Linked DNA regions of Homo sapiens: regions 2, 3 and 4 are each linked to region 1. The links come from fine-mapping of genetic effects on gene expression. A gene starts in region 1. Each other region holds a variant in brackets. All regions are shown on one strand. Distances are from middle to middle. Region 1 holds the start of TCAF1 (TRPM8 channel associated factor 1). Region 2 has its middle 18 kb from the start of CTAGE6. Region 3 overlaps TCAF2 (TRPM8 channel associated factor 2). Region 4 holds the start of OR2F2 (olfactory receptor family 2 subfamily F member 2).

The links. PIP is the estimated chance that this variant, and not a neighbour inherited with it, causes the effect.
Region 2: its variant is the best candidate, but not a certain one, in a credible set for the expression of TCAF1 in esophagus mucosa (GTEx, PIP 0.58).
Region 3: its variant is the best candidate, but not a certain one, in a credible set for the expression of TCAF1 in whole blood (TOPMed, PIP 0.53).
Region 4: its variant is the best candidate, but not a certain one, in a credible set for the expression of TCAF1 in whole blood (INTERVAL, PIP 0.88).

The regions. Positions count from the first base shown.
Region 1 is chr7:143,897,375-143,905,296 of GRCh38, reverse strand. It overlaps TCAF1 (TRPM8 channel associated factor 1), which reads left to right and starts at 3,121. Exons shown (of 9, transcript NM_014719.3): 1 at 3,121-3,336. LOC105375549 (a long non-coding RNA gene) reads right to left here. Exons shown (of 3, transcript XR_007060574.1): 3 at 3,344-7,922. RefSeq lists a silencer at 2,961-3,100 and enhancers at 3,891-3,940, 3,616-4,153.
Region 2 is chr7:143,735,636-143,743,557 of GRCh38, reverse strand. No RefSeq gene overlaps it. Among named protein-coding and RNA genes, the nearest start is that of CTAGE6, 18 kb to the left of the region's middle. The variant T/C (reference allele first, on the strand shown) is at 4,270.
Region 3 is chr7:143,725,123-143,733,044 of GRCh38, reverse strand. It overlaps TCAF2 (TRPM8 channel associated factor 2), which reads right to left. Exons shown (of 8, transcript NM_001363538.2): 8 at 2,635-5,632. The coding sequence ends at 5,378. Among named protein-coding and RNA genes, the nearest start is that of CTAGE6, 29 kb to the left of the region's middle. The variant A/G (reference allele first, on the strand shown) is at 4,227.
Region 4 is chr7:143,930,835-143,938,756 of GRCh38, reverse strand. It overlaps OR2F2 (olfactory receptor family 2 subfamily F member 2), which reads right to left and starts at 3,524. Exons shown (of 1, transcript NM_001004685.1): 1 at 2,571-3,524. The coding sequence starts at 3,524. The coding sequence ends at 2,571. RefSeq lists an enhancer at 2,676-3,175. The variant C/T (reference allele first, on the strand shown) is at 3,133.

The DNA.
Region 1 (7,922 bases):
GGATCACAGCCAGTCCACAAAGAGCAAGCCTGAGAAGGAGAGGAAAGGGGTGGGGGAGTGGTGGGTGAGGGGGTTGGAGGAGCTGAGGGGTGGCCAGTAGCGGGAGGAGGCAAGTGAAATGGAAACTCCTGGCCTTGGCTGGCCCAGAACTCGCACTGGCCCAGGTTCAGGAGTCTTGGTGTGCTTGCTGGTGAAGGGGTTTTCTCTGCTGCACTGGCTCCGTGTCCTTCCATACCCTAAAACATATACACACACAAACACACACACACACACACACACACACACACACACACACACACACACACAGAAACATGAGGCGCCGAGAGGACTAGCCAGTGATCTCAGCCTCAAGGACTTTGTACTGCAAGAGCGCTGGCATCTGAATTCCAAGGTCATGCTCCACCTCTACCTGCTGCAAACCCCTTCTGCTGCTTGCATTTCAGTGTTCCTTTTTGTATTAATATAAAGGAGGAGAGTGGATGAGATGTTGTAGCTCTGAAATTCTATGACCAATTGCACAGCAAAAACAACAGCAACTAAAAATGGTGGGTTTTGCTTGTGTGCCTGGAGAGGGAGTGGGGGTGGGCAAGCTTATGTCCTGTTGACTGTCAGCTTCTGAGGGGAGAAGGGATCTGGCAAGAGAGAAGTGCAGCTGTCTTGGCAGAGAGAATGAGAAATGAGAGAATGAGAAAGAGAGGTAACTGCAAGCAATCCTGGTCTTTCAGACACACTCAGTCTACAATCCCCAAACACCCACCTGCCCCCACAGTTTCCCCCCAGACACCCCATTTAACCGCACAAACACATCCAGACGCTGGTTTTTCCTTTCACCATAGTAGTCATAAACTATGCCTCTGTGCTAGTAGCTGGGTGCATTCACTTCTAGAAATCTCTTAGAAGTAAAGTCCCATCCATGTCTGCCCTCCAATCTCAGGCTAGGCCTATGTAGTTTTGAGGGGAGACTAGATTTGCAGGGAAATGAGGAGAGAACACACAACTTGGAGATTTGAAGAGCAAAGGAGACAAGGGCCAAGGAAATCATGGAAGAAGTCTGGAAGGATCTGTCCATTCTCTGGTAATGGTGAACATTCACATAGGGTTTTCCATGTGCCAGACACTGCTTTAAGAGCTTTATCTGTATTAAGTCATTTAATCTTCATAAAAATTCCATGAAGTAGAGACAATTATTATCCCCAATGTTACAGATGAAAACACTAAGATAGAAGTTAACAAGCCCTCTGTGATAGGCAGAAAAATAGCTCCCTAAAGATGTTGATATGGTTTGGCTATGTGCCCCCACCCAAATCTCATCTTGCAGCTCCCATAATTCCCACGTGTTATGGGAGGGATCTGGTGGGAGATGATTGAATCATGGGGGTGGGTCTTTCCCCAACCGTTCTCATGATAGTGGAGAGGTCGCAGGAGATCCGATGGTTTTAAAAACGGCAGTTTCCCTGAACAAGCTGTCTCTTTGCCTGCCGCCATCCACATAAGATGTGACTTGCTTCTCCTTGCCTTCTGCCATGATTGTGAGGCCTCCCCAACCACGTGAAACTGTGAGTCCAATTAAACCTCTTTCTTTTGTAAATTGCCCAGTCTGGGGAATGTCTTTATCTGCAGTGTGAAAATGGATTAATACAGATGTCCAGATCCTAATTCCCAGAATTTGTGATACGCAATGCTACATGGCAAGGGAGAATTAAGGTTGCAGACAGAATGAAGGCTGCTAATTAGCTGACCTTGAGATGGGAAATTATCTAGATTATCTGGATAGGCACAATGTAATCACAAGGTCCTTCTAAGTGAAAGAAGGAAGCAGGAGACTCAAAGAAGGAGATGTGACACAGAAGCAGAGGCTGGAGCCATGAGATTGCTGACTTTGAAGATGAAGGAAAGGGCTGCAAGCCAGGGAATGCGGGAGCCTCTGGAAGCTGGAAAAAGCAAGGAAAATAGATTTGTCCCTAGATCCTGCAAAGAGAAACACATCCCTGCCTACACCTGGATGATAGCCCAGTGAGACCTGTGCTGGACTTCCAGGACCTACAGTCCTGGAAGATAGTAGTAAATCTGTGTTGTTTTAAGCCACTAAATGTGTGAAAATTTATCACAGCAGCCTTAGCAATGAATACACTGCCCAACTTGTAAGCAGAGGATGTGGTGGCTTCAAAGTCCAGGCTTTTTCCCTGCTACTCCTTTCTTTCTTTCCTCCCTCATGCCCAATATCTGTCATCTGTTGATTGGTTAGTAACATTCTCAACGCCTTACTGTTTTATTAAACTTATAAAAACAATGTATTGGTTTAAAAAAAAACAATTCAGTGGTTGTGAAGGTAAGAATCAATAGACAATTTCTCCACCGTTAGCCCCGCCTCTTATAGAAGCACATGCAGCATGTCTTCTTCATACACGAATGTAATGCTAAAGCTGATGCAGTGGCTCAGGCCTGTGATCCCAGCACTTTGGGAGGCCGAGGCGGGAGGATCACTTGAGCCCTGGCGTTCGAGACCAGCCTGGGCAACAAAGTAAAACCCTGTCTCTAACAAAAAATCAAAAAGTTAGCTGGGCGTGGTGGCGGCGCACTTGTGGTCCCAGCCTCTGAGGTGGAAGGATCGCTTGAGCCTGGGAGGTTGAAGCTGCAGTGAGCTGTGATGGCACCACTGCACTCCAGCCTGGGTGGCAGAAGCAGACCCTCCCCCTGGAGGGGAGGGGAGGGGAGGGGAGGGGAGGGGAGGGGAGGGGAGGGGGAAAGAGAGATCCTACTCTCCATTTTAATACAACTTGCTTTTTTAATTAAAAACTATAGCTAGAACCGATAGATTTCACTCGTCCTTAAAAATAGTCCTGTATTATTTTATATAAACATCTCTCGCTATTTATCAAGGCCGTCACTTGTTCAGAAGTATTCTCACTTTTGTTTTGTTTTGTTTTGTTCTTAACAATTTGCTCCCTATATTCCTGGGCTGGCGCCTAGGCCTGCATCCGGGATTTGGCGCCACATCTGCGGGCAGGGCCTCTGAGGTCTAGGGGAGGGACGGCGCCGGCCAAGTCCCGCCCCCGTCCGCGTCGACCAATCAGCTCCCTGGAAGGCCCCTCCTCACCACCCCCCACCCCCGCAGTCTCCGCCTAAGACTTTCCAAGTCCTGTAGTTTCGAGCCCGCTGCCCTTTGCCTCCTGGGCGGAGAAGCTGCTTCCTCCTGGGAACAACCGCCTCCCGCTCCTAGCAGGTTGCTACTGCCCCGAACCCGCGCTGCAGGGAACAGCGGGGCAAACAGTGAGTGGGGTTCAGCGTAGACTCTGGACCAGGAGAGGCCCGCGGTGACCGAGGCCTGGGCCCCGGGTTAGTGTCCGGGGCGGGGAGCGGTGGGCGGGGTGCGACGTTTAGCGTCTGGGGAGGGCCGGGCGTGGATTGCGGCCTCTGCGCGCGCCCCCAGGTGATAGAGCCGTTCCACCGAGGATCCCTTCCTTCGTCTCTACCCCGTTGATGATTTTTCTCTGCAGCTCGGTGCCTATTTCATTCTCGCCGCATTGTTATGCCCTCTGCTGGGCAGGAGGCGATGACCCCCCCTATTTTCGTAGGATTTGTTTTTTGCTCCGCAAGGAGCCATTAAGATCTGAGCTAGCAGGAACCCTCGAGGCGATTTGATCTCGCCAGCTGGGGGCTTGCATTCTTCTAGGCTAGCTTGTCTCCGTTAAGCCCAGGTGGAAGTTCTCATCCACCCCAGTGCTCTAGGCGCCCACGGGCGCAGTGTGGGTTTGTGGTGGGGGAAGGGACCTGGGGAGGGGTGGCGGTGAGAGCGGCGCGGGGATTCAGGCTGAATGTTAGTCTGGAATGCATTTGGCCTGAAGCAGCAAGTGCTGGGTGATACAGTTCCCTGGTAAACAGCCGAGAGCTGGCCGCTAGTTTGGCCCAACCTGCAACGGAAGAAGGCCTTAAGTACAGGAGAAAAAGATCTTTGCCAATTGGATAATCATGGAAATTTAGAAGAAGTACAGCTCGAACTAGACGTAAAGGACAGAATGTGTCTGTCTAGCTGACCAGCCAACCATCGGTCCATCACTTTCATCCTCCAAACTAGTGATTTGTTGATGAATTGGTTTCAATACTTTGTTTTAAAATGTTGAATAAAAAGTAAATGAAATATCTCAGAATGGTCTAAAAAATAATGAAACGAATGCCTGACCATCTCCTTGGGTCAAGAAATAGGGCGTCACAGTACCTTAGAAGCCCATGAGTCCCAACTGATGCCCATGGTCCATTCTCCTCCATTCTCTGAGATGTGACATCTTTCGTGATTTTTGTCTTAATTTAATGAATCCCTTGCTTTTCTTTTTAGTTTTACCATATTTGTGTGTGTATTCCTAAAACATATGTATTGGCTTTCTCATTATAATGACATTATATTAATGACATTATCCTGTACGTATTCTTAAGTTTTATAGATTCATCTTTCATGCTTCCTTCCATTTTCGTTTTCGTCATTTAAGGTGTAAATGTACATAATTTATCCATTCTACTGCTGATGGACATTGGATTGTTTCTACTTTTGGAGGTGTATGATTTATCTATAAGCTATGTAACAAATTACCCCAACACCTAGCAGCTTCAAACCAAAGCGAACAAACAAAACAAGTCCTGTTACCTCCTATCTTACAGTTTCTGTGATCAGGAATCCAGGAGGGGCTTAGCTGGGAGTCTCTGACTCAGGGTCTCTCACAAGCTGTATCAACAATCAAGGTATTGACTGGGCCTCAGTCATCTCAAGGCTAGGCGTAGGGTCGAGGACCTCTCCCAGGCTTACTCACATGACTGCTGGCAGGCCGATTGGCCTCACTGACCCTGGCTGTACACATCAGTTCTTTGCCACATGGGCCTCTGTATAAAGAATGGTTGCAACATGGCAGCTTACTCCCCCCAGAGAGAAGGCTCCCACAGAGAAAAAGAGAAAGACAGAAGTCAGATTCTTTCTGTAACCTCAGAAGCGACATCCCATTATTTTTGCCATTTTATATTCATTAGAAGTGAGTCCCTAGGCCCAACTCACACTGAAGGGAAGGGGGTGACACAAGGACATGAACACCTGGAGGCAGGGATTATCGGGGCCACTTTAAAGCCTGCCCATGTCCTCTAATATTCAAGTACACTTGTGTGGGAGCTTCCCTAGAGTATATAGCTGGGAGTAGAATTGCGGAGTTATAAGATTTATGTGTATTCAATTTTATTGGGTCATTTCTAAACTTTCCAAAGTGTTAAACCAGTTTGCACTCCCTCCAGCAGTGGATGAGCATTCTTGTTGCTCTACATGCTTGCCACAGCTTAGTCTTGTAAAATTACATTTTTTGTCAGTCTGGCAGGTATGAAATAGCATTTAACTGTGATTTTAACTAGCATTTTCCATAACTAATGAGATTGACTTTTTATATGTTGATCAGTGCTTTCTCTTTGTGAAATTCTGATTCCTGTCTCTTTCATTTTTGTATTGGATTGTTTGTTTACCTTTTTTATTGACTCATTGGAATGCTTTCTTTATATAATCTGGGTACGAAGCAGTAATTGTTAGCTATATATGCCACAGACATCTTTCCAATTTGCTTTTGAGGTTTTCTTTCTCTCTATGTCTTTATATCTGTTTCTTTCTCTGTTTCTATCAATGAATCTAAGTTTTGAATTTAATTTCAAGTTAGTAGTACTTTCTTTTATAGCTTTTCTTGTTTGATAATTGTTTTCTCAAGATCATAGATTAATTTTAGTGTATCGTTTTCTAAAAGTGTTATAGTTTTGCCTTTGGCAATTAGTCTTAATCCACATGGAAACTGATTTTTATGTTGTTTATTCCATATGGATAATCTGTTGCCCCAGCACCAGTGATTTGCATGAATCAGGATTTCCATATAAGCATGAATTCGTTTTAAGCCCCCATTCTTATTTTCTATTTGTCTAACTCTGCCTCAATACTAAATAATTTTTAACCACTATAGTTTTATTAAAAGCCTTGAAATTTGGTAGGAAAAGTCCTATCACCTGTTTCTTCTTCTTTAAGAGTGTTTTAGCTTTACTTGGACCTTTGACCTTCCATATAAATATTTAAATAAACTTATCAAGTTCTCCAAAACAAGAAACAAACAAGCAAATAAACCTGTTGGAATTCTGATTGATAATGGATCAACTCTGTGTCTTAGTCTGTTTTGTGCTACCATAGCAGAATACCTGAGACTGAGTAATGTATAAGGAACAAAAATTTATCAGCTCACAGTTCTGGAGGCTGGGAAGTCCAAGATTGAGTGGCTGGCATCTGGCAAGAAAGAGCCTTCTTACTGTGTCATTCCATGGCATAAAGGCAGAGAAAGGCTGAAAGAGAGTGTAAAAGGAGGGTGAATGCCGCCTTTTATAATGAACTCACTCCTACAGTGATGGCATTAATTCATTCACTCTGCTGTCATGACCTGATGGCCTCTCATTAAGCCCACCTCTTAACACCATTGCATTGGGGATTAAGTTTCCAACACCTGCTTTTTGAGGGACACATTCAAACCATTGCACTCTATAAATTATTTTGGGCAGAAATTATTTCTAAGACATTGGCCCTTTTCCTCAATGAACATGGTATATGACACTATTTAAGTCATCTTCAATGTTTTGTACTATTTTTTATTGTTTTCTTTTGGCTCAGTTTTTGTTAAATTTCTAGGCACGTCATATTTTTACTGCTATTGTAAGCATTTTCTTTTGTAAAAGTTATATTTTGTAGTTTATTGTTGCTGGCATACAGAAATTCAGTTGCCTTTTATATATTAATTATATATCAATCAAACTTGAGAAAATTAATAATTCTAAATTTACCTGTAGCTTCTTTCAGATTTGCTACATAGGCAATCATATCATCCGAAAATAATGATAATTTTGTTTATTCGTTTCTAATTCTCATACCTTCAATTTATTTTTTCTGTCTTATGACAATGACTAGGAGCTCCAGTACACTGTTGAATAAAAGTAATAAAGGGCATCTTGTTTTGTCCTTAAGATAATAATGAGAAATATTTCATTATGTCAACTTAAAAATGACATTTGCTATAGTTACTTTGTAAATGTCTTCCCCATCATAAGAAAATTCTGTTCTTCTTTTGGTAAGCACTTTTATTATAAATGGATGTTTTTTCAAATGCTTTTCCTGTAGCTGTTGAGAATATATATACTTTTTTTCCTTTAACTATATTAACAACATAGTAAAGTATAGTATTTAATTTCTGATATTAAACCAATTTTGTATTCTTGGAATAAACCTTTTGTGGTAAATATGTAGTAATTTCTGTATGTGGATATAGATACAAAAGGTAAACATTGGATATTTATATTTATACGTGTGATTTAAGATTGGCATGTAATTATACTTTTCTGTACTATCCTTTTCTGATGCTGGTATTATCATAAAATAATATGAATAGTATTCTCCCTTATGCTATTCTTTGGAAGAATTTGTGCAAGATTGGGATTATCTGGTCCTTGAATATTTCCTTGAATCACCTGTAAAATCATCTGTGTTTGGAGTGTATTTTTTCAGAAGATTTTAATGATTATAGTACTATTTAGGTTTTCCTATGGAGTCAGTTGTAGTAAATTGTATTTTCCAAGATATTTAACAATTTCACATATACATGAATGTATCAGTATACGTACATGTATATGTTTATTCAATATATATAAATACATTTGACCATTGAACAATGGAGCAGTCGGGATACTGACCCCCCTCAGAATTGAAAATTTGTATATAACATTTGAGTCCTACAAAACTCAATACTAATAGCCTACTAATGAGTGGAAGTCTTACCAGTAACATAAGCAGTTGATTAACACATGTTTTATATATGCATTATATTCTTAACTAGAGAAAAAGAAAATGTTATTAAGAAAGTCATAAGGAAGAG
Region 2 (7,922 bases), 160 kb after region 1:
CTATGTTTGATTGGTTTACCTGAGAGTGACACAAAGAATGGAACCAAGTTGGAAAACACTCTTCAGGATATTATCCAGGAGAACTTCTCTAACGTAGCAAGACAGGCCAACATTCAAATTCAGGAAATACAGAGAACACCACAAAGATACTCTTTGAGAAGAGCAACCCCAAGACACAGAATTGTCAGATTCACCAAGGTTGAAATGAAGGAAAAAATGTTAAGGGCAGACAGAGAGAAATGTCAGGTTACCTACAAAGGGAAACCCATCAGACTAACAGTGGATCTCTTGGCAGAAACTCTACAAGCCAGAAGAGAGTGAGGGCCAATATTCAACATTCTTAAAGAAAAGAATTTTCAGCCCAGAATTTCATATGCAGCCAAACTAAGCTTCATACATCAAGGAGAAGTAAAATCCTTTACAGAGAAGCAAATGCTGAGAGATTTTGTCAGCACCAGGCCTGCCTTATAAGAGCTTCAGAAGGAAGCACTAAACATAGAAAGGAACAACCAGTACCAGCCACTGCAAAAACATACCAAATTGTAAAGACCACCAACACTATGAAGAAACTGCATCAACTAGCAGGCAAAATAACCAGCTAACATCATAATGACTTGATCAAATTCATACATAACAATATTAACCTTAAATGTAAATGAGCTAAATACCTCAATTAAAAGACACAGACTGACAAATTGGATAGAGTCAAGACCCAGTGGTATGCTGTATTCAGGAGACCCATCTCACTTGCAAAGACACACATAGGCTCAAAATAAAGGGATGGAGGAAGCTACCCAGAAAAAAGGAAAGCAAAAAAGAAGCAGGGATTGCAATCCTAGTCTCTGATAAAACAGACTGTAAACCAACAAAGGTCAAAAGAACCAAAGATGGGCATTACATAATGGTAAAAAGATCAATGCAACAAGAAGAGCTAACTATCCTAAATATACATACACCAATACAGGAGCACCCAGATTCATAAAGCAAGTTCTCAGACACCTACAAAGAGACTTAGACACCCACACAATAATAGTGGGAGACTTTAACACCCTACTGTGGATATTAAACAGATCAACAAGACAGAAAATTAACAAGGATATTCAGGACTTGAACTCAGCTCTGGACCAAATAGACATCTACAGAACTGTCTACCCCAAATCAACAGAATATATATTCTTCTCAGCACCACATTGCACTTATTCTAAAATTGACCACATAATTGGAAGTAAAACACTCCTCAGCAAATGCAAAAGAATAGAAATCATAACAAACAGTCTCTCAGACCACAGGACAATCAAATTAGAACTCAGGATTAAGAAACTCACTCAAAACCACACTACTACATGGAAACTGAACAATCTCCTCCTAAATGACTACTGGGTAAATAGGTTCATTTGGTCTATAGTGCAGATTAAGTCTGATTTTTTTTTGTTGATTTCTGTCTGGAAGATCTGTCCAATGCTAAAAGTAGGGTGTTGAAGTCTCCGGCTATTACTACACTGGGGCATATCTCTCTCTTTAGCTCTAATAATATTTGCTTTATATATCTGGGTGCTCCAGTGTTGGGTGCATACATATTTAAAATTGTTACATCCTCTTGCTGAATCGAGCCCTCCGTTATTATATAGTGTCCTTCTTTGTCCCTTCTTATAGTTTTTGTCTTAAAATCTATTTTGTCTGATATAAGTATAGTGAATTCTTCTCTTTTTTTGGCTTCCATTGGCATAGAATATCTTTTTCCATCCCCTTATTTTCAGTCTATGTGTGTCTTTATAGGTGAAGTGTGTTTCTTGTAGGCAACAGATGAGTGGGTCTTGTTTTTTCAAGATAACCTGACTTCAAGTTTATTAGCTCTTTATTCTGCTTGCTCAATTCTGCTATTAAAAGACCCTGATGCATTCTTCAGTATGTCAATTGCATTTCTCAGCTCCAGAATTTCTGCTTGATTCTTTTTAGTTATTTCAATCTCTTTGTTAAATTTATCTGATAGAATTCTGAATTCTTTCTCTGTGTTATCTTGAATTTCTTTGAGTTTTCTCAACACAGCTATCTTGATTTCTGTGTTTGAAAGTTTACGTATCTCTGTTTCTCCAGAATTGGCCCTGGGTGCCTTATTTAGTTTGTTTGGTGAGGTCATGTTTTCCTGGATGGTGTTGATGCTAGTGGATGTTCTTCATTGTCTGGGCATTGAAGAGTTAGGCATTTATTGTCGTCTTCAATGTCTGGGTTTGCTTGTAGCTGTCCTTTTTGGGAAGGCTTTCCAGATGCCTGAAAGGACTTGAGTCTTGTGATCCAAACTGTATCTACTTTAGAGGGGCATCTCAAACCCAGTAACATCATGGTTCTTGCAGACTTGTACAAGTACCACCTTGATGGTCTTGGACAAGATCCAGGAGAATTCTCTAGATTACCAGGCAGAAATTCTTATTCTCTTTTCTTACTTTCTCCCAAATGTACAGAATTTCTCTCTCTCTGTTCTGTGCCACCTAAAGCTGGGGGCGGAGTGGCACAAGCACCCCTTTGGCCACCACCACTATGACTGTTCTGGGTTAGACCTGAAGCCAGCCCAGTGCTTACTGGGTCTCACCCAAGGTCTGCTGTAACCACTCCCTGGCTACTGCCTACATTACCTCAAGGCCTTGGGACTCTACAATCAGTAAATGCCAAAGCCAATCAGGCCTATGCCCTTCCCTTCAGGGCAGCAAGCTCCCCTAAGCCCCAGAAGTGGGTCCAGAATGCCATCTGGGAGTCAGGGACTAGAGTAAAAACCCTTAGATGTCTACCTGGTGCTCTCTTGTATTGCAGCTGAACTGGCACTCTAACCACTAGATGCAGTCCTTCCCACTCTTGCCTCCCCTTTCCAAAGGCAGAGGAGCCTCACCCCATAGCCACCACCACCCAGGCCACAAGGAGTACTGCCAGACTACCACCAAAGTTCCCTTAAAGCCCAAGATCTCTTAAGTCAGCTTGTCATAAATGCTACCTGTCCTGGGACTCCCATGTTAGGGCAGTGGGTGCTCCTCTGGCCCAGGGCAGGTCCAGAAATGCTGTCCAAGAGTCAAGTCCTAGAATTGGGGACCCCGAGAGCCTGACTGGTTCTTTATCCTTCTGTGGCCATGCTGGTACCTAAGGTGCAAAACAAAGTTCCCTTTACTTTTTCCTCTGCTTTTCTCAAGCAGAAGTTTTGCCCCAGAGCCACCGCAGCTAGTAATATCCTGAGTCTCACCTGAAGCCAGCAAGCCTCAAAGGCTCACCCAAGGCCCTTGGTGTAGTACTTGGGTATTGCTGCTGGTTATTCAGGGCCCAAGGGCTCTTCAGTTAGCAGGCGATAAATGCTGCCAGGACTGGGTCCTTTCTTTCAAGGCAGCAGGTTCCCTTCTGGCCCAGGGTGTGTGTAGAAATGTCATCTGGAAGCTAGGGCCTGCAGTGGGGACCTCGTGACTCTGACTGTTGCCCTGTTTTGTTGTAGCTGAGCTGGTATCCTAGGTGCATCACAAAGTCTTTCCCACTCTCCCTTTTCCTACCTTCAACTGGAAGAAAGAGAGGTCTTTCCGAGCCATAAGTTGTGCAGCCTGGGTTTATGGGAGGGTTGAAGCCAGCACTCCCTTAGCTGCCCCAGCTAGTGTTTCTGTACGCCACATGCAGTCCCAGTTCACTGTCTCTGGGCCTAGTTCAGCACCAGGACTCACCTAAGAGTTTCAGTCTTTATGGCCCAGACTGCCTTTCAAGTTTACTTGGAGATACAGAGTGTTATAGCCCTCGGTGGTGAAGTTTGCAGGCACTCAAGTTCTAACTGTTGGAATCAGTGATTCTCCTCTGGCTAGGCCTGGTTTAAATGCTCCCTCTGTGGGTGGGTGTCAGCTGAGTTTGGTCTGGTTTTCCTTTCTGCTCTAACAAGACAGCACTGAGTTCAATGCCTCACAATTGCTGTATTCTTCCTTCCCCAGCACCTAGAGACGCTCTCTGCACCACGCCATGATTGCTGAAGGGTGCAGGAGGGGTGGCATACTTGATTTAGGACTGTTTTTTTTCTATCTCTTCAGTGCTTGTTTCAGCCATATGAAGTTAAAACCAGGTACTATGAGGGCTCACCGGATTTTTGGTTCGTATGAAGGTATTTTTTCTGTGTAGATAGTTGTTAACCTGGTGTCCTTGTGGTGGCAGGGCAGACTATCAATGGAGCCTTCTATTCCGCTATCTTGCTTTGCCTCCTCCCCTCTGGAAAACTAATTTTTAAAAAATCAATTCTCGGCCGGGCACAGTGGCTCA[T/C]GCCTGTAATCCCAACACTTTGGGAGGCCGAGGTGGGTGGATCACAAGGTCAGGAGTTGAAGACCAGCCTGGCCAATATGGTGAAACCTTGTCTATACTAAAAATACAAAAATTAGCTGGGCATGGTGGTGGGTACCTGTAGTCCCAGCTACTCGGGAGGCTGAGGCAGGAGAATCACTTGAACCCAGGAGGTGGAGGTTGCAGTGAGCCAAGATCGTGCCACTGCACTCCAGCCTGGGCGACAGAGCGAGACTCCACCTCAAAAAAAAAAAAAAATTCAAGTCTCCACTAATTGATGCATATTCTTAAAAAATTACTTAGAATCAAAATCTCAACAGGGTTTTTCATTATTGTAGTTGTTTACTCACTTGTTTTAGTGGAATGCAACAAGCTGGTTTAAAAATTTAAATGGAAGCACAAACAACCAAGAATAATTGTGTGTTCTTGACAAAAACTAAGGTAGAATAATTAGCAAGATTTATTATGAAGATATTACAATAGTATAGCATTGGCATAGAGATGAAGAAAAAAAATAGAAAAGAATAGAGAGCCTGCAAAGAGATCCACACAGATCCAGACTTTTGGCCCCGTAGATGAGGCAGAAAGAGTGAACCTTTCAATGAACAGTGCTATAATTAGGAATCCATATTTTAAAAAACTACAGTTGTATTCCTAGTTCACTATGCCCAAAACTCATTTAAACTTAAAAATTTATACAACTCTTTGAAGATAATATAGAAAAATCTCTTTGTGGAATTTGGGTAAACAATTTTTTTTACTCATGGTACAAATAGTATTAATCATAAAAAAGATTAATAACTTTGACTACTTTAAAATTAAGAAGTTGTGTTTATTAAAATACACCACAAGAAGAGTGAAAATTGGCCCAGAGTGGGAAAAGCTGTTGGCCACACATGTAACTGACCAAGTTTATATATCTAAAACATTGTGACATACAGAAAATCCGATAGAAAAATACACAAGAAAATGGAATGAGCACTTCAAAATAAAAGCAAAAATCAAATGTTTAGTTAATATATGCAAAGCTGCTTAACATCATTAGTAATGAGGAAAATGCAAATTAAAACCACAATAATATATTACTATGCACTCATCACTTTGGAAAAAAAAGTATTTCATAATATCAAGTGTTCCTAAGGATCTAGAGCAATGGAAACTCATATACTCTAAGTGATATGATTTATCTTTGACTTGTCTTTATCTACAGCTTGGTTTTATCTAAGAAGGTTGAAGCTATGCATATTCTACGATACAGCAATTCCTTTCCTAGGGTATGCCAGAGAAACTCTCGCACAGATATACATGTAAAGGATGTTTGTAGTATCAGATAGGCCCCAAATAAAAACAATCAAAAACCAATCAGCAGCAAAATAGATTAACTGATTGTATTATAGTTATATAACTGAGTATTAGGCAGAAAGAAAAATGAAGTAGAGCTACACAAATCAACACAGACGATGTCACAGTATTGCACTAAAGAAGCAAGTCATAAAAGATTACATATAATATAACTTTCTTGTATTCTTATACAGTTTAAAACAAGTTAAAACTAAACTATGTAGTTTAAGTTTGTGCACATAGGTAGTAAAACTAAAGGAGCAAAAGGAATGATCACAGAAGTCAGATTAGTGTTCCATCTGGTGGTAGGAGAGGGACAATGAACTTGGAGGAACATATGGAGGACTTCAATTATTGGCAACATTCTATTTCTTAATCTGTTGCTGATCTGATTGTTCCCTTTCTAATTATTATTTAAATTGTACATATGCTTTTAGATACATTTTTTATGAGCACAGTGTATTTCATTAAAAAAAGAATATTGTTGGGTTGCATCTTCTGACACTAAAAGTAAATTGGTTTGGGAAATTTTTATGGATAACACAAGTAGAGAGCATATTGACCAGTCAATTGCTTCATGGGAAGGGTAACATAAATATCTCTTTTAAATTAAAACCACGGCAAGAGACTGTGTTTGCCACAATGGGAACAATTTCACTGTTTCAACTGGTGATCAGGAGCTGAAAGGTTTTCTAAATGGCCACAAGGGAGAGACAAAGAACAAAGATTCTATGCAGAGGACACAGAACTTAAAATGTCGAGGGTTCATTCAAGATAGGAGTGACTTTAATTCCCTTTAGCAGTGCGTGTTATTCCATTTTAACAATATTTGTGAGCAGTAGGAGCTTTGACGGTCCCATTTAGTGTGACCAACCACTAAGGCTTTAATTTTTTCTGAAACTGTTTCGAAATACTAAGTTTTCAAATAAGTCAGGGACTTTAAGGCATTCAGGGGAGGAAATACAAGCAGGGTCATTTTAAATAAAGGTAGGGTCATCTTTAAGGCTGGTCGCTGTTGCTCATGCCGGCAATCCCAGCACTCTGGGAGGCCGAGGCTAGGTGGATCATGTGAGGCAGGAGTTCGAGACCAACATGGCCAAACCCTGTATCTACTAAAAATACAAAAATTAGCTGGGCATGGTGGCAAACACTTGTTGACCCAGCTATTTGGGAGGCTCAGGCAGGAGAATCACTTGAATGCAGAAGGCAGAGATTGCAGTGAGTTGAGATTTCATGACTGCACTCCAGCCTGGGCAACAGAGCGAGACTCCATCTCAAAAACAAACAAAACCACCACCACCAACAACAACAATAAAAACCCACTTCTTTAAAACTTAAAAGTGACCATTATTATTTCCCTAAAGTATTCTAGGGTGATTTCTGCCTCTTGAAATGTCTCCAGTTTGTTGGGAATTTAGATTTTACAGCTATTGGAGCTAATAACCTATGGGAACGTATGTGGTCCCTTATCCAATGCTTTTAGACATAATGAGAGGAGTTGGGGCATCCTTAAAAAGGATAAAAACCTTGAGTGTAAGACCTGCTTCCTCTAAGACTCCATCAAGCTCTTATTTTGAATCGCAGAATCTTTAAAACCCTCCAGTCTAGGTTGGACACGGTCTTGGTATTGGAAAAAAAATCAATTGTATATCCTGAGCGAAGTGTTCCTTGGATGAATGACCTTTACTGTAAAGTAACTGCTTTTTGTGTAACTAGGAATAACCTGATTGGTTTTGGCAGTTGGACTCTGCTTGCTCTGTGATTCAGTATTCAGACACATAGTCTAATGCAGGCAGAGTTACAGGCGATGGCAGATCCAGTAACTCCATAGGACAGTATGCTGGCTGAGAGTGTGGGCTCCAACTTCTAGGGTTGGAAATGTGGCTTCACAGCTTACTAGTTCTCAGCAAAATGAAGAGTGTAATTGTACTTACTCTGTAGGAATGTTGTGAGCATAAATAAATATAAAAGCACTTAAAACAGTTTCTGAAAAGAAGCGGTTTATTGATGATTCACCTAACTTACACTGATATCCTTGGGAGTAAATGTGGTCTGGAAAATAGATTTTTAGGGTCATTGCTTGAATGGGATTATGAAATTATATAAATGCACAATATATTTTTTGTTATAACTCCCGTCTGCTACAATAATTCACGGAATCTTCCCATATGTAACTTTACTAATTCAAACCTGAATGGTCCTCATTTTAACTACCTGTTCAAATGATTTGTTATTTAAGACAAAAACTATGTGGCTGGGAGTAGACTGCATGATCCTATTAAAAGAAGTATCAT
Region 3 (7,922 bases), 170 kb after region 1:
TCTTGTTAGTAATGTGTTAATACAATAGACCCCTACACCAAAACTGATATGTGACAGGCCCTGCCCTTGGGGCTGTAGATACAGCTGTGAATAGGGTAGGTCTAGTCCCTGCCCCTATGAAGCTTCCATGTAGTGGGAAAGAGAGATTTTAAACAAATAATTACAAATGTGATGACTGATATATAAAGGAAGTTACAGGTTTTATCGGAACATGAGGCTTAGAGACACGGCTCGAGGAAATGACCTCTGGGTTAAGAGCTGAAGAAAAAAAGAAAACCTTAAAAATACTGATACCCCAATCCAAAGTAATATAGAGAAGTGCCGTCCCTTCTCCAAGGCCACCACTAGCTCATAAAATGCCTCTGTGTGAATTAGAGAATGTCGCTCTTGCTATCCTGGCTGGCTCAGTGGTGGCACCCCAGTGGCCCACCTTTGTGTGTGACCCAAATGGCACGTCCACAAAGTGTGTCCCTTCTCCACAGGGCAGGTTTTGTTTTATTAAAAATACAACACTAAACACTATTTTACCAAATTTAGCAAATGGAGAAAATATACATTGAAATTATTCACATTTGAAAAAGATTGCAGACCATTCAAGTTTAATTAAGTCCTGGTTAAAGATACTTAAAGATTTAACAGGAAAAAACAAAAAGTGAAAATGTTTTAATTTCTTATGATAAATATAAATGATAAATGAGTCCTCACTCTGAAAATATAACTCTAAAAAAGGACATTTTTCTAGTTGACTTTTGTTGTTGTTCTACCCAAAAGGAAGCCCAAACATCAGAAACTTCTCTATTCTATTGTGAAGTGGAGGGAAGGACAGGTGGAAGAAAGGAATGACCCAGGAGCACAGAACAATCTGTAGAAATGAGAAGGAGGGCCGCATTCACGCTGAAATGTGTGCATCACAGCTGGAATAAAGAAAGCAAGGGATAGAGGTGGGAGGCAAATCTGGAAACACTCGCAGAGACCAAATCATGGAAGACTATGTTGGCATGCAAGCTGTGTTGTAAATTTTAATACAGTTTATATCTATCTTGTTTAAAAGGTGTCATGCTTGCATAGGGTAGAAAACATATGTGGTAGAAATACAATATTAAATTACTAACAAAGAGCTTATAAGAAAAACAACAGGAATCTGCCCAAACCCTACTCTGTCTTTATCTCCCCTGTTTCTCTACTCTTTCAATCCTACTCTCCCTAAGAAATTGTTTCAAAACTTAAAAAAAACAAGTCTTCTACTTCTCTTTTTTTCTTTTCTTTTTTCTTTTTTTTGGACGGAGTCTCACTCTATTGTCCAGGCTACAGTGCAGTGGCGCGATCTCAGCTCACTGCAACCTCCAGCGATTCTCCTGCCTCAGCCTCCTGAGTAGCTGGGACTACAGGCATGAGCCACTGCACCCAGCTAATTCTGCATTTTTTTTAGTAGAGATGTGGTTTCACCATATTGGCCAGGCTGGTCTCGAACTCCTGACCTCGTGATCCACCCGCCTCGGCCTGCCAAAGTGTTGGGATTACAGGCGTGAACCACTGCACCTGGCAAAAGTCTTTTACTTCTATAGGTATAAATAGTAGACTTACACCATTACAATTTTACTACAAAATTTCTAAACATAGGCAAAAGTTGAATAAGGATCCTTCAAGAGCCCCTTCACTTAGCTTCAATAACAAACAACATTTGGCACTGTCATTACCAATTCTCCAGTACCAAAGAAAATGTATGCTTCCCAGTACAGCCAGTAAAAGTCTGTCGTATGCACTTCATCACCCTGGCAAGGGCCACCTTCCCATCACTTGAACCAATCCTTGTTGGAAGGTATGGACAATTAGATGAGCATGGATTCTGTGCCCACTCCTGCCAACAGTGTGGGCCAACCCCTTCCAAACCAAGTGGACTCTGTGTTGATGTTGGTGTACCAAAGGAAACCAAAGGAAAACTGATGGGGCTTTTAGCAAAGCAATTGAGTGGCTCATGGGAGGGAAAAGCAAACCAAACCCATGTCCTGTACAGTAGTGATTGGACAAAAATATACAGTCCAAGGGAAATTATAAGCACTAGTTCCAAAGTGAGACAAGCTACATTCAGTATCTATCCTACTGTTCACAGGACATGTTTTTTTCTTTGGGTTGGTTCCAAGACCATCCAATAATTTTCTTCTAATAATTTTTCTAGACTTAGAACTGTGAAATTATGGAAGTAAATGTCTCAGAAATCATGGATCATCCCTATCACTGGCAGCAAATTAGTTTCTGTGAATAGACAAAAGAATCTGAGAATACTGCAGTTACAATTAACTATCAACTTAAAAACAAGAGGCAAAGTCACAGTCTCTCTGTATGAGAGACAAGGAGCTACAGGCTCCAACTTCTACCAGGAAGTGTGTGTGTGTGTAAGAAGCCAGACATTGTCTCTGTTTCTAGGGCAATCTATTAAACCCAGCAGTATCCATCATTTTACCCTAACATCACTGTTGAGAACACCAGTTCTGCAACCTACAGAATGGGAGAAAATTTTTGCAAGCTACCCATCTGACAAGTTCTGATATCCAGAATCTGCAAGGGACTTAAACAAATTTACAACAACAACAAAAACACATCAAAAAGTGGGCAAAGGATATGAACAGACACTTCTCAAAAGAAGACATTTATGTGGCCAATAAACATGAAAAAAAGCTCATCATTACTGGTCATTAGGGAAATGTAAATCAAAACCACAATGGGGTACCATCTCATGCCAGTTAGAATGGCGATCATTAAAAAGTCAGGAAACAACAGATGTTGGTGAGGCTGTGGAGAAACAGGAATGCTTTTACACTGTTGTTGGGAGTGTAAATTAGTTCAACCATTGTGGAAGACAATGTGATGATTCCTCAAAGATCTAGAACCAGAAATACCATTTGACCCAGCAATCCCATTACTGGATATACACCCAAAGGACTATAAACCATTCTACTATAAAGACACATGCACACATACTTTTATTGCAGCATTATTTACAATAGCAAAGACTTGGAACCAACCCAAATGCCCACCAATGATAGACTGGATAAAGAAAATATGGCATATATACCATTGAATACCATGCAGCCATGAAAAAGAATGAGTTCATGTCCTTTGCAGGGACATGGATGAAGCTGGAAGCCATAATTCTCAGCAAACTAACACAGGAACAGAAAACCAAACAACACATGTTCTCACTCATAAGTGGGAGATGAAAAATGAGAACAAATGGACACAGGGAGGGAAACATCACACTGGGGCCTGTCGGGAGGTTGGGGGCAATGGGAGGGAGAGCATTAGGACAAATATCTAATGCATGCAGAGCTTAAAATCTAGATGATGGATTGATAGGTGCAGCAAACCACCATGGCACATGTATACCTATGTAACAAACCTGCACGTTCTGCACATGTATCCCAGAACTTAAATGAAAAAAAAAAAAGAACATCAGTTCTGGAGTTGAATTTCCTGAGTTCAAATTCCTTCTCTACCCAAGGCTGGATGACCCAAAGGCAGACAAATCACATTCTGAGGCAGGCAGAAAATCAGATACCAACACCTTTTTGGAAGTTAAACTTGTTATTGAATGAAAATTCAGTAGTAAACATTGGAAAAATCCAGACCTGGTTGAACATATTTTCATCTATTTTCTAGGTGACATTTTGTTTAAATTGTAAACCATTCATGAAGAATAAGTTCCACAATGTTTTCATTGCTATGGGCTTCAATTAAACCCTGGTTCTTCCTTTTATTCACTTTGTGACTTCAAAAAACTTATTTTATGTCCCTTAGTGTCAGTTTCCTCATGTACGAAATGGGGATCATACTAGTACCTACCTCAGAGGTCTGCTGGGAAGATAACATTAAATCACTCACAGTAAATAGCTCACGCAATGCCTGGAACATACTAATCACTCATTATGTGTTAGGTGTCATTACTGTTCTTTCCTTTGACAAATACTTCATGAACACCTTTGATGTGTAGAGCCCCTGGCAAAGGGTACTAGAGAAATAAAAGGAAATTATCTAGAATTGGGAATTTGTTAAATATGCTGACGGGATTCAGCAAAAGACATGCCCTAAATTAGTTCTCCTAATGGGAAGCCACTCTACTCTCAACATAGCCTAAGGAATGATATTCAAAACAAACAACAATATGGTCTAAAAGTAAACTGGAGAAAGTAGCTAGGCATACACTCATTAATCCCAGAGACAAATCTCCA[A/G]TGAGAACTCCCTCTAACCGAAGAGTCAAGATGGGCTAGAATGAGATTAAGAGAAAGCTCAGGGGATGCTGGGGTGTGGGTTGATTAAGTGAGGATTACATCCGCTGCACCCAGTAATCCTGTTCCAGAGTGAAGCCCACTGTGCCTGTGGACCCCCCACCACTTGACAGTGCCTTGATTCCATGGTGACCAGAGGAGTCAGATGCCTGTTTTGTGGTATGAACGAATGGGCATATAGACTTAGTAGCAGCTGTTAACATGACTTTGTCCTTTGGTTGAAGGGCAAAGGGCAAACCCTGGAAAATGAAGCTAATCCCAAAGACCCAACCTCACAGCTCTGTGACACTCAGTTTCAGCACATGCCACTTTTCTTTGGGTTAGGTTATACCCAAGAATCCTTCCAGAAGTGGGAGAAAAAATGTAGAAAGGGCTAAGATACTGCTGACAACTACCATTATTGATACCATGTCTGGGAAAACATTGACATTCTCTAAATATACAAGGACTGAATGCTAACCCCAAGGGGGTCAACACTGAAGTGAGATTCAGCACCCAGGATGTGCACGCTAGACTGGACACCGTTAACAGTCCACTATGGGACCAGGAGAAATCAAACAACAGCTTTGTGAGGAAAAGATTTGTATCCTCATGTCATGGATGTGAAGACAGAAACACAGAGAGGTGGAGTGATTTTCCATAGAACCAAAGCTGGTTTGGGGCTCTCTCCACTATTCCAGCGTGTCTCGCTTGCTATTTGAAAACTTGTTAAAGCATAATAAATTAGAAGCCTTATTCAGGGATGGCAGGGATGAGAAAGGGATATCAGGTTGTTATGGGAACCCGTGGTCTTTAGAGCTATTGGTCAAAAATAGAAGCCTCAGGATGGCAGGATGAAAGATCCTCTCTGGAAGACTAAGAGGTGAAGTGAGTCTCTTGGGGAAAGCAATAGCGTAGGCAGAAAAACAATAAAAAGAAGCACAAGGCACCTTTTACAGAAAGGGGTTCCATTTTTTCTTATGACCGTGGCCACCATCTAGTGGTCAGGCTTGGAAGCGGGATTCAGGCTCCAGATACTGAGCACACGGCCAAAGCCCCATGGTGGAGTTGATGGCGTGACCCTGCCTTTTCTCTCCCGCCTTGTGGGGCATCCTTTACTTCCTGGCACGGAGGTACACTTGCATGGGGTTTTCCTGCCACTCTGGTAGGGAGGCCAGGCTGTCAGCCACCTCCTTCTGGATAGGCCAGCCCCAGGCCTCAAAGAAGGGAACCAGATTCTTCTTCACTTTTTCAGAGAACTTCTTCACCCATAGATTCATCCTGCCAGTGTTGTCTTTGGGGAGGTGAGAGAGGGTCTGGTACTCAGCAAAGAGCTGGGTGAATGGCTCCCACCCGAAGGCCTCTTGGAGCTGAAAAGGGAAAGAAGGAACAGAATGAGGTGTCAAGTTTGCAAAAGTGACGTGACATGTGCGTTCTTAAATATATTTCATTCACATGATCACCTCCCCTCAATCGTTACCTTCATCCTGGGTATGTGCCCCTATCTCCCCACTCTGCCCCTGCACAATAATGCAATCTTGTTGGCTCATTCCTCCTCTTGGCCACAAAACAACACCCCCTGAATCTAGTGGGGGTGCTCAGGGGAAACCTAATGTCTGAATAGAGGTAAATACTCAATAAATGTCCACTATTAGTATCTTTAAACAATTGTCTTCCCAGATCTCAAGTGTTTTCCTCAGCATCAGGACAGGTTTGGGCCTGACTGAGATGAGAAACCCTCACTTCCTACATATCTGGCCTATTGAGATTCTAAAAGCTGCGAACCTCCAATACTATACTTTCCAGACATCATAATAATCCTTATTTTTTAATAGCCATCTTGGACCTGTGGCTATCTGCAATGATACAAAATTGCTCTGTAGAACACTGCATTTAGGGCAGAAAAAGAAAAAAATCCAGCCTGTCTCGAGGGGCTAAAAATGAGAGTGGCTCATACTTCATAAGGGGCAGCTAATGAGAGTGGCTCATACTTCATAAGGGGCAGCTCTCCGGAAAGCCCTTGGCAGAAGGCCCTTGTTTACTAAGATTATACAAATTTCCAGTTAGCGGGGATCTGGGGTTTCACATCCCCACTCTCCCTTTAATAGATGAGCATTCTCTGACTGTAGCTCATAAAAGCCCAAAGACAGATAACACCACCGAAGCCAAGCCTACCTCAGAGTCTCACTGTTGTATCCTTATTATTGCTCATCTGTTCTCACTGGCTTGCTCTTTGACACTTATTAATCAATGCATCAATAAATTAAGCATTTATTAAACGTTTAACATGTATTAGACACCCACACACCGCCAGCTACTGTGCTAGGCAAACATCATTAAGAGCTCTTGTCCTTCTAGAGAACACTGGCCAAAGGGAGAAACACACGTAAATAAACACATTGCTAAAACTGTTGGTTTATCAAGGAGGCGATGTCCAGGAGAGAAAGGGCCAACAGAGCTGAATTTGGACAGGTGACTTGACAGCTAATGGACAAGATGTTCCAGCATGATTCAGCAGCAGGAAGCAAACAAGGGGAGGCACAGAAGCCAAAACAGCAAGCTGTGTCCGTAACCATAAGCAGGTTGGCATGCCGAAGGGTAAATGTGGAGGTGAGAGCAGTAGGAGATGTAGCTAGAGGTGCTGGTGAGGCTGGTCATGAAGGGCCTCCTATGCCCTGCTAATGAGCTTTGACTTTACCCTATATGTGCTAGAGAACACTGTAAGCATTTGATAGACAGAGTATTAACATTATTTTGGAAGGAGTGTAAGGAAGATGGATCATAGAGGATTGAGGCAAGATGCTGGGACAACTTAGAAGGCTACTGGAATACACTGAGGGAAGACTAACGAGGCCTGAGCTAAGGCAGCAGTGGCACGGATGCTGGGGAGAAGCCCTCTAGCAGGAAGAGGAGTCAGAAGGTGCCTGTTTATCCTGAGGCCAAGTCTCAGACTTGGTCTCTCTAGAGCTATTGAGAACTGATATTCGGGGCTCCACAGTGAGTAGGTAGCAGACTAGGACAGAATTAGGGCTTAAACTTACAGTTTAGGGGCAACCTACCATTGTGGTCAGTGGTCCCGTATACCCCCAGACTGGCTATCTAAGGATATGGAAATGAATGCAATACAAAGTTACCTCATTGACTGGGACTGTCTCACATTCACTCTTCAGAAAATTAGTGAAAGGCACAAAAAACTAAGAGAGGGTATGGCAATGCGAAAGCCTGGGGCTTGTCATTACGTCCTGATTTTAAGTTCTAGGTCCTTCACTTAAATGGGGGCTACTGGAGAGATTGCTTAAATTCTTTAAAATAGTGTGTGCCTCTGTGAAAAGTGGGCCAGACAGCTCCTATCCATAGAGCTGTGGGAGACATTGCAGGAGATCTGAAAGGGGAACAACATTGACAACTCGAAAACATCGACATTCAATGCAGGGCTAGGGGAGGGGGCAGGGATTTGTGTTTATTTCACAGGAAGTAGACTTGCTTTATGAATTCAGTGTTCTACTATTGGGTTGACTGGCTCTTCATTTTAAATCATTTTGGCTTCAAGTGGGGTGATGGATGATGAGACCCTTGTTAGCAGATTTGTCTCCAACAATGCCTTCTTATTGTAATGCAGCTGCATTGCAGACACCCTCCGTTATTATAAAAAAGCATAAC
Region 4 (7,922 bases), 33 kb before region 1:
AGCAATAACTTTTCTAATTAGTGAACTAGGTCATCAAGGCCTAATGTCTGGGTAAGCAGCCTTGAAATTTTTACTATAATGATAATGATGCAATTTCCTCTTTTATCTGCACCTATGCTTCAAAACTCAGTGATCTCCACATTTTTCCATTTGATATTTACCGTGAACTGACCTGTCTATGCTCACCCAGCCTGCTGAGCTCAGCCCTGCAGGCCTAAGACGACTGTCACACCCTTAGTTCAGATTCCTCTAGTGTCTAAATGGCATTAATGGAGCAGCCCACTAGATTGACTTCTTGCTTCCAATTTTTTATTCCTCTATCTCATTTGCCAGTGATATTTCAGAAATGTAAAATTTATCAAGCCATTCTTCTGCTTAAAAATCATTACTGACTTCTGGCCGGGCGCAGTGGCTCACGCCTGTAATCCCAGCACTTTGGGAGGCCTAGGCAGGTGGATCACGAGGTCAGGAGATCGAGACCATCCTGGCTAACACTGTGAAATCCCATCTCTACTAAAAATACAAAAAATTAGCTTGGCGTGGTGGCAGGCAACTGCAGTCCCAGCTACTAGGGAGGCTGAGGCAGGAGAATGGCGTGAACCCAGGAGGCGGAGGTTCCAGTGAGCCGAGATCGCGCCACTGCACTCTAGCCTGGGAGACACAGCAAAAGTCTGTCAAAAAAAAAAATCATTACTGACTTCCCATTGCTATTAGGATATAGTTGAAAGATAATGTGGCATTCAGTGCCCGCCATGAACCAATGCATACCTACCCATCCACTTCATCCTCACTACTTCTCACTACTTCCTCACTCTTCTCTGCCCTACAAGTGCAGCTTCCAGATATTTCTGGATACTCAAGTCTCGCCCTCTGCACTTTGGCTCAGGTTTTTCATTTCCTCCAGTTCCTTTTCATCTGGATAACTTGCTCTCACTTTCCTGGTCTCAATCTAGACATTTTATGTTGTTTTCTTTTAACAGGAAGACTTTTGTGACACCCCTGATGGGCTTACTCTATCTGTAATATTTACAACATTACTTTATAATTGCTTCATTATCCATCATCCCTGCTATGCAACCCAGAATTGTATCATATTCACTACAGAGTCTCCAGAACCATTCATTGTCACTGACACGTACTAGACACTCCATTGATAATGCTTAAGTTAACACCAATAGAAATTTTAGTTTGCTGCCATTGACATTTTTGGGGATGCTTGCCTACCTTGCAAAATTTAAGATAGAATAGTAATTAAGGTAAAACTGATATTTCAAAAGGGCTTTGGATTATATGAACCTTCATAAATACCTGAGGATCTGTGACAACGTGGTCACCAATGGAAGAACAGAAAATTAACTTACTGAAAGAAGAGACACGACTTAGGTTACTTCAAGCAAGTGAGATGATCAGCTACTATCATAATTTTTCTCCTCTTTCCCCTTCTTTACCTTATATATTTGTTTCTTCTTCTTTTGTATTATTTATAAATTTTAGCAGCAGTGAGGCCCACTCTCGAGCTCAGATGACTAGGTTTAGAAAGTTGACTAGTGCCCTACTGTATGTGTGAGAAGAAATAAGAAAAGTCCTTAATATGGAAGCTTGAAGGTAACATTTGCACAGGTGAGGCATCTATCCTGACTCCTCAAAATTCATGTTAAAATTGTCTTCTCTTTCATTGGTATTGGCTGAAGAGTGTCATTTCTTAGATTAACTATGTCTTTGATGTTTTATAAATTATCTCATAATTTATTGCTTATTTTGTTTCTAAACATTAAAAAATGGAGTTTGTGAATTTTCCTGAGATTGGACAATTTTAATATGTTAAATGATACCTCTTATACAGTAAAATTTCTCTCAAACTGAGTGCTGTGAGTAATGCCTGAAACTTAAATTTTCCTTGGCTAATAATAGTCTTCATTACAAACAACCATTTTTTAACCCTATCAGGGCAAAATAAGAACTTTCATTGATATTTCTTCACTGAATTACTTCCAGCACTCAGAGAAAGACATTTTGTTCACATTTCGAAGGTCCTGCACAAAATCATTTTAATAAGCCTTGACAAACAACATCCTTCTCGGAATGTTGATTCATAATTATTGTATGTGGCTACATAAACAACCAATTATTTTCAGTGAGTCTTCAAATGTGAAAATGCATTTTGTTTTCAATGCAAACACTACAACCTTTACAAAATGTCAATAAATAAGAACCACTGGTCCAAGGTAAGATGTATGAATAGGTCTACGGTTATAAATAATGTGACAAACCAAAACAGTAAGTAGTACTTTTTTTCAGTTTTTATCAGAACATAAGAGTGGAGATTGAGAAATTGTGGAAGGTTCTGTTACAGCAGTAGCTAACTCCACTAATCATACTGCTGGGATATAAAATTATCCCCACATCCCACACCCCATCCAACTCAACCACTCAGCCTCCTACATAACATCCCCAGTACATGTTACATCATCTCCTTCCCGGTTGCCAGAGCAACATAGTTTATCCCTGCCATATCTGAGCTGGGTGGAGAAAAATGAGGCAAAGCTTCTTCTTAAAGTAATGTTCATGAGTCAAGTTCCCAGCTTGGATGTTAACCCAGAGAATTTCTCTAATAGTTTATGCCAGGCCCCCTTCACCTCTTTATTCCTTAGACTATAAATCACAGGGTTCAGCAGAGGCATAACAATGGCATAGAAGACAGAGATCAGCTTCTCTTGAAGGACTGAGGGACCAGAGTGGGGCTGGATGTAAGTGAAAATCGTTGTGCCGTAGCACAGGGCAACCACCGTGAGGTGAGAGGCACACGTGTGGAAGGCTTTCTTTCTTCCTTCTCTGGACTGGATCTTTAGGATGGTGGAGATGATCCGGATGTAGGACAACAGAACCAGGCAGAAAGGTGTCATCAGAAGAACAATGCTAGACACCATGATGGCAGCCTCATTGGAGGAGGTGTCCACACAAGCCAGCCTGACCACAGCTAGGAGTTCACAGGATATGTGATCAATAAACTTGTTAGTGCACATGGGCAGCTGAAAGGTGATAGCAGTCTGCACAAGAGAGTTGATGGAGCCACTGACCCAGGATGTGATGGCCAACCTAGCACACAGCCCTCCATGCATGATGGCCGAGTAT[C/T]GCAGGCGGTCAGACACAGCCACATGGCGGTCATAGGCCATCACTGCCAGGAGAACAAACTCAATCCCACCCAAGGCCAGGGAGAAAAATAACTGGGCTGCACAGCTCTGGAATGGGATGGCTTTATGTTCTGCAAGAAAATGTGCCAGCAGCTGGGGGACTACGCTTGTGGCATAGGAGACATCGACAAGGGAGAGGTTGGTGAGAAAGAAATACATGGGAGTGTGGAGTCGGCTGTCCAGTCTGATCAGAAGGACAATGAGACAGTTCCCCAGCACTGTCATGAGGTATGTGACCAAGAACAGGGAAAACAGGGATATCTGAGTGCACCAGTCACTGGATAAGCCAAGGAGAATAAATTCTCTCACCCACGTCTGGTTATCTATTTCCATTTAAAAATGTGAGGAATATTAATCTGTAGAAAGAGTCAGAAAAAAACAGAAGCTGTTGAATCAAAGAATCATAAGAATAACTTCTTAGGAATGCATACTGTATACGACATTCCAGCCTTGGCCAAATATTTTAGATAATTCACAAGGCCAAGATGACAGGCTTGTTTCCAACATACACTATATTTACTTTGCATTAGAGAGACAGTAGTGCTTTCATAAGGACATGATGTGGACTCAAATAAGCCAGTTAAAGCCTGTAGATAATGCAGTGCAATTTTTGGAAGCTTTACCTCTTTACTAGCTTACCTCAGTATCCAGGGCAGGGAGTTTGTTTTCTGATGATGTCAGCAAAAAGGAAGAATAGAAAGTCCCAGGCTCTACTCTTCTCCACAGAACATTCAACTAGCAACTATCCCCAGACCAGAATATCTCTTTTAAAACTCCACTACTTGGACACTAACATGAGACAACCACAAGGTACGTGGAATGAAAATTGAATTAGAAGGCTAAGAAGCATAGTTTCACTTCAACCCTGCCACCTTGCCTCCTGCCAAAGTCAACACAACACCAGACAAAGAGGGTTTTCCTGGGCCCATGGTTTTTACAGGAGGAAAGGAAAACTAGAGGCAGTCATTCAGCATCTCTAGTTTTCCAAGATGCTTCTCAGAAATCCCACTCTGGGCTTATCTCATGGAGAACACTGGGGGTAACAGCATAGCTAGACTACCTGGTGTCAAGTAAAAACAAAGAAAGGAGGCAGAGGTCTTAGTGACCAGCACACAGATCATGGCATTACCTCTGTGTTCTTGCTAGCTGTGGTGCCCAATCTGAGACACTAGTCAACTTCATAGTTCATTTACAAAGCTAAGCTGGTCATCTTCAGAAGCATGGTGGGAAGTACAACCTAGCTTGAGGCCTTAGATAGCTAGTCCCCATGTCCAGTCTCAGAGCCCACACCAGTGACCTCTGCCAAGACAAGGAGATACACACCTCCACCCATTTCAGAAACACACATGAGGTAGACCTGCTTAACCCAGGAAGTCAATCCATGGCTCTACTCAGCTAAAAGGCCCCATCAAGGACATCTACATGCCTTTCAGAGAAGCATGAGGGCTAGAACTGTTTGACCTGGGAAGTCAAACTCAATTCAGCCAAAAGCCCATCTTAAAGGGAAGAAACCCTACAAGGAAGCTCCACCTTAACAGGGAAGCAACCATCAATTGTGTTTTTCTGAGTGTAGCCTCTGGCCTCAATCATTCTAAGCAGCAACTTCTCCTAACTTTGGAGTTCAGCCTACAGCCCTGCCCAACTGCAAATCCCAGAAAGCATAATTTTCCAGCCAGGGAATAAATTCTGTGACTAGTCTGACCAGAAGCCATTGCAGTACGCAGTCAGTAGCTCTGTGTGATAACAGAGCTCAGCCAGTGGTCTTGCCAGACAGCAGGGCCCAGTCAATAGCCCCAGCCAATATCAGAGCAAAGACAGCATCCCAGGCAGGTAGAAAATCCACAGTTAGCTTTGCTTGCCCAGGGCCATTACCAGCTGGCCCTTGAAGAATTACAGGCTACACTAAATAGTATAGGTCTAGCCCTGCCAAAGAACACCTGTAAAGGCCAGAAGGAGGGGGTATCTCTTCAAATGAAAAGATAACAATGCAAAGACACAAGGATTACAAAGCACTGGGGAGTTATGACACCTCCAAAAGAAACTAATAAAGGGCTAATAATGGACCCTAAAGAAATGGAGATTTATGGGGTGACAAAAAATTCAGAATAATCCTCTTAAGTTAAAAAAAAGTACCAATAGAAATTTTAAAAAATTTGGAAAAAAATACACAAACAAGATGAGGAGTTTTACAAATAAATAGAAACAATAAAAAAGAACCAAATAGAAATCCTAGAGATGAAGAATAAAAAGACTGGATTGAAAAATTCAATTAAAAGTTTCAATGGCAGACTCAAGCAGAAGAAATATCAGTGAGCTGAAAGAACATTTGAAATTATCCAGTCAGAGGGGCAAACAGACAAAAGAATGAAAAAGAACGAAGAAAGCCTGTAGGAATTATGGGAGACCAATCCTTTATATAATAGGAGTTGCAGAAGGAGGAGAAGGAGAAAAAGGGGCAAAAACCATATTTAAAGAAATAATGGCTGAAAAATTCCCTAATCTGGAGACAGAAACCAACATCCAGGCACAAGAAGTTCAAAGATCTCCAATCAAATTCAACCCAAAAAGGAGTTCAGCAAAACACATAATAATCAAACTATTGAAACTCAAAGACAAAAAGAAAAGGATTCTAAGAGGATCAAGAGATAAGAAACACATCACATAAAAAGGAGTTTCAATACAACTCTTAGCCGATTTCTCAGCAGAAATCCTGCAGGCCAGGAAAGATTGGGATGATATAGTCAAAATGCTGAAAGTAAAAAACTTGCCAATCAAAAATACTTTACCCAGAAATACCTGCATTTCAGAAATAAAAAAGAAATAAAAACTTTCCCAGACAAACAAAGGCTAAGGGAGCTCATCACCACTAGGTCTGCCTTATAAGAATTATTAAAGAAAGTTATTCAATCTGAAGCAAAATATTACTAATTAATAACATATAACTTACAAAAATAGAAAATTCAGTAATATAAGTAAAACAGAGCCGTACTCAGAATACTCTAGGACTGTAATGATGGTGTATAAAGCAATTATATCCCTAGTACAAGTATTAAAAGACAAAATTACTAATAACAACTACAGCTAAAATAAGTTACTGAAAGATACACATTAAAAGCAATGGTAAATTCTGGGCCGGGCATAGTGGCTGACATCTGTAATCCTAACACTTTGGGAGGCTGAGGCATGTGGATCATTTGAGGGTCAGGAGTTTGAGACCAGCCTGGCCAACATGGGGAAACCCTGTCTCTACTAAAAATACAAAAATTAGCTGGGCATGGTGGCAGGCACCTGTAAACCCAGCTACTTGGAAGGCTGGCACAGGAGGAGAATTGCTTGAACCCAGGAGGCAGAGGTTGCAGTGAGCTGAGATCATACCATTGTACTCCAGCCTGGATGACAAGAGCGAAACATGGTATCAAAAAAAAAAAAGTAATGGTAAATTTCAATATCAAAAACATAAAATGTGGCTGGGGGACTAAAAGTGTAAAGTTGTTGGATGCAATCAAAGTTAAGTGGTTATCAGCTTGAAATAGGCTGTTTTAACTGTAAGATATTTTATGTAAGCATCTTGGTAACCACAAAGCAAAAATATTTAGTCAAAGCACAAAACAAAAATAGAATTGATTCAAAACATACCACTACAGAAAATCATCAAACCACAAAGGAAGACAGCAAGAGAGAGAGGAAGAAAAAAAAAAAAAGTAGAACCAGAAAAAAACAAAAACCAGAAAACAATTAACAAATGGTAGTAGTAAGTCATACCTATCAATAATTACTTCAAATGAAAATGGACTAAATTCTCTAATAAAAAAGACATAGAGTAGCTGAATGGATTAAAAAAAAAAAAGAAGACTCAACTATACGCTGCCTACAAGAGACTCTGCTCACTTTTAAGGATACACATGGACTGAAAGGGAAGAGATGAGAAAAGATAATCCACACAAATAGAAAACAAAATACAGCGAGGGTAGCTATACATATATGAGAAGAACAGATTTTAAGTCAAAACTATAAAAAAAAGAAGGCCAGGTGCGGTGGCTCACGCCTGTAATCCCAGCACTTTGGGAGGCTGAGGCGGGTGGATCACCTGAGATCAGGAGCTCAAGACGAGCCTGGGCAACATGGTGAAACCCCATCTCTACTAAAAATACAAACATTAGCTGGGCACAGTGGCATGTGCCTGTGATCCCAGCTACTCAGGAGGCTGAAGCAGGAAAATCACTTGAGCCTGGGAGGCGGAGATTGCAGTGAGCCCAGATTGCGCCATTGCACTCCAGCCTTGGTGACAGCGCGAGACTCCATCTCAAAAAAAAAAAAAGACAAAGAAAAGCATTATATAATGATAAAAGGATCAATTCATCAAGAAGATATAAATATTATAAATATATATGCAGCCAACATTGGAGCACTTAAATAAATAAAACAAATATTAAAGGATCTGAAGTGAGAGATAGACGGCAACACAATAACAGTAGGGGACTTCAATACACTAGGTTCAACAATGGAAGAATCATTTAGACAGAAAATTAATGAGGAAACATTAGACATGAAAAACACTTTAGACCAAATAGACCTAACAAACATATACAGAGCATTCCATCCAACAGCAGCAGAATACAGCTTCTTTTCAAATGCGCACTGAACATCCTTCTGTACAGTATCCAGGCGAGGAAGGATGGTAGGTAAAATGGTAAACAATGAATATAAACATGGTTCAAATATCTACCTTGC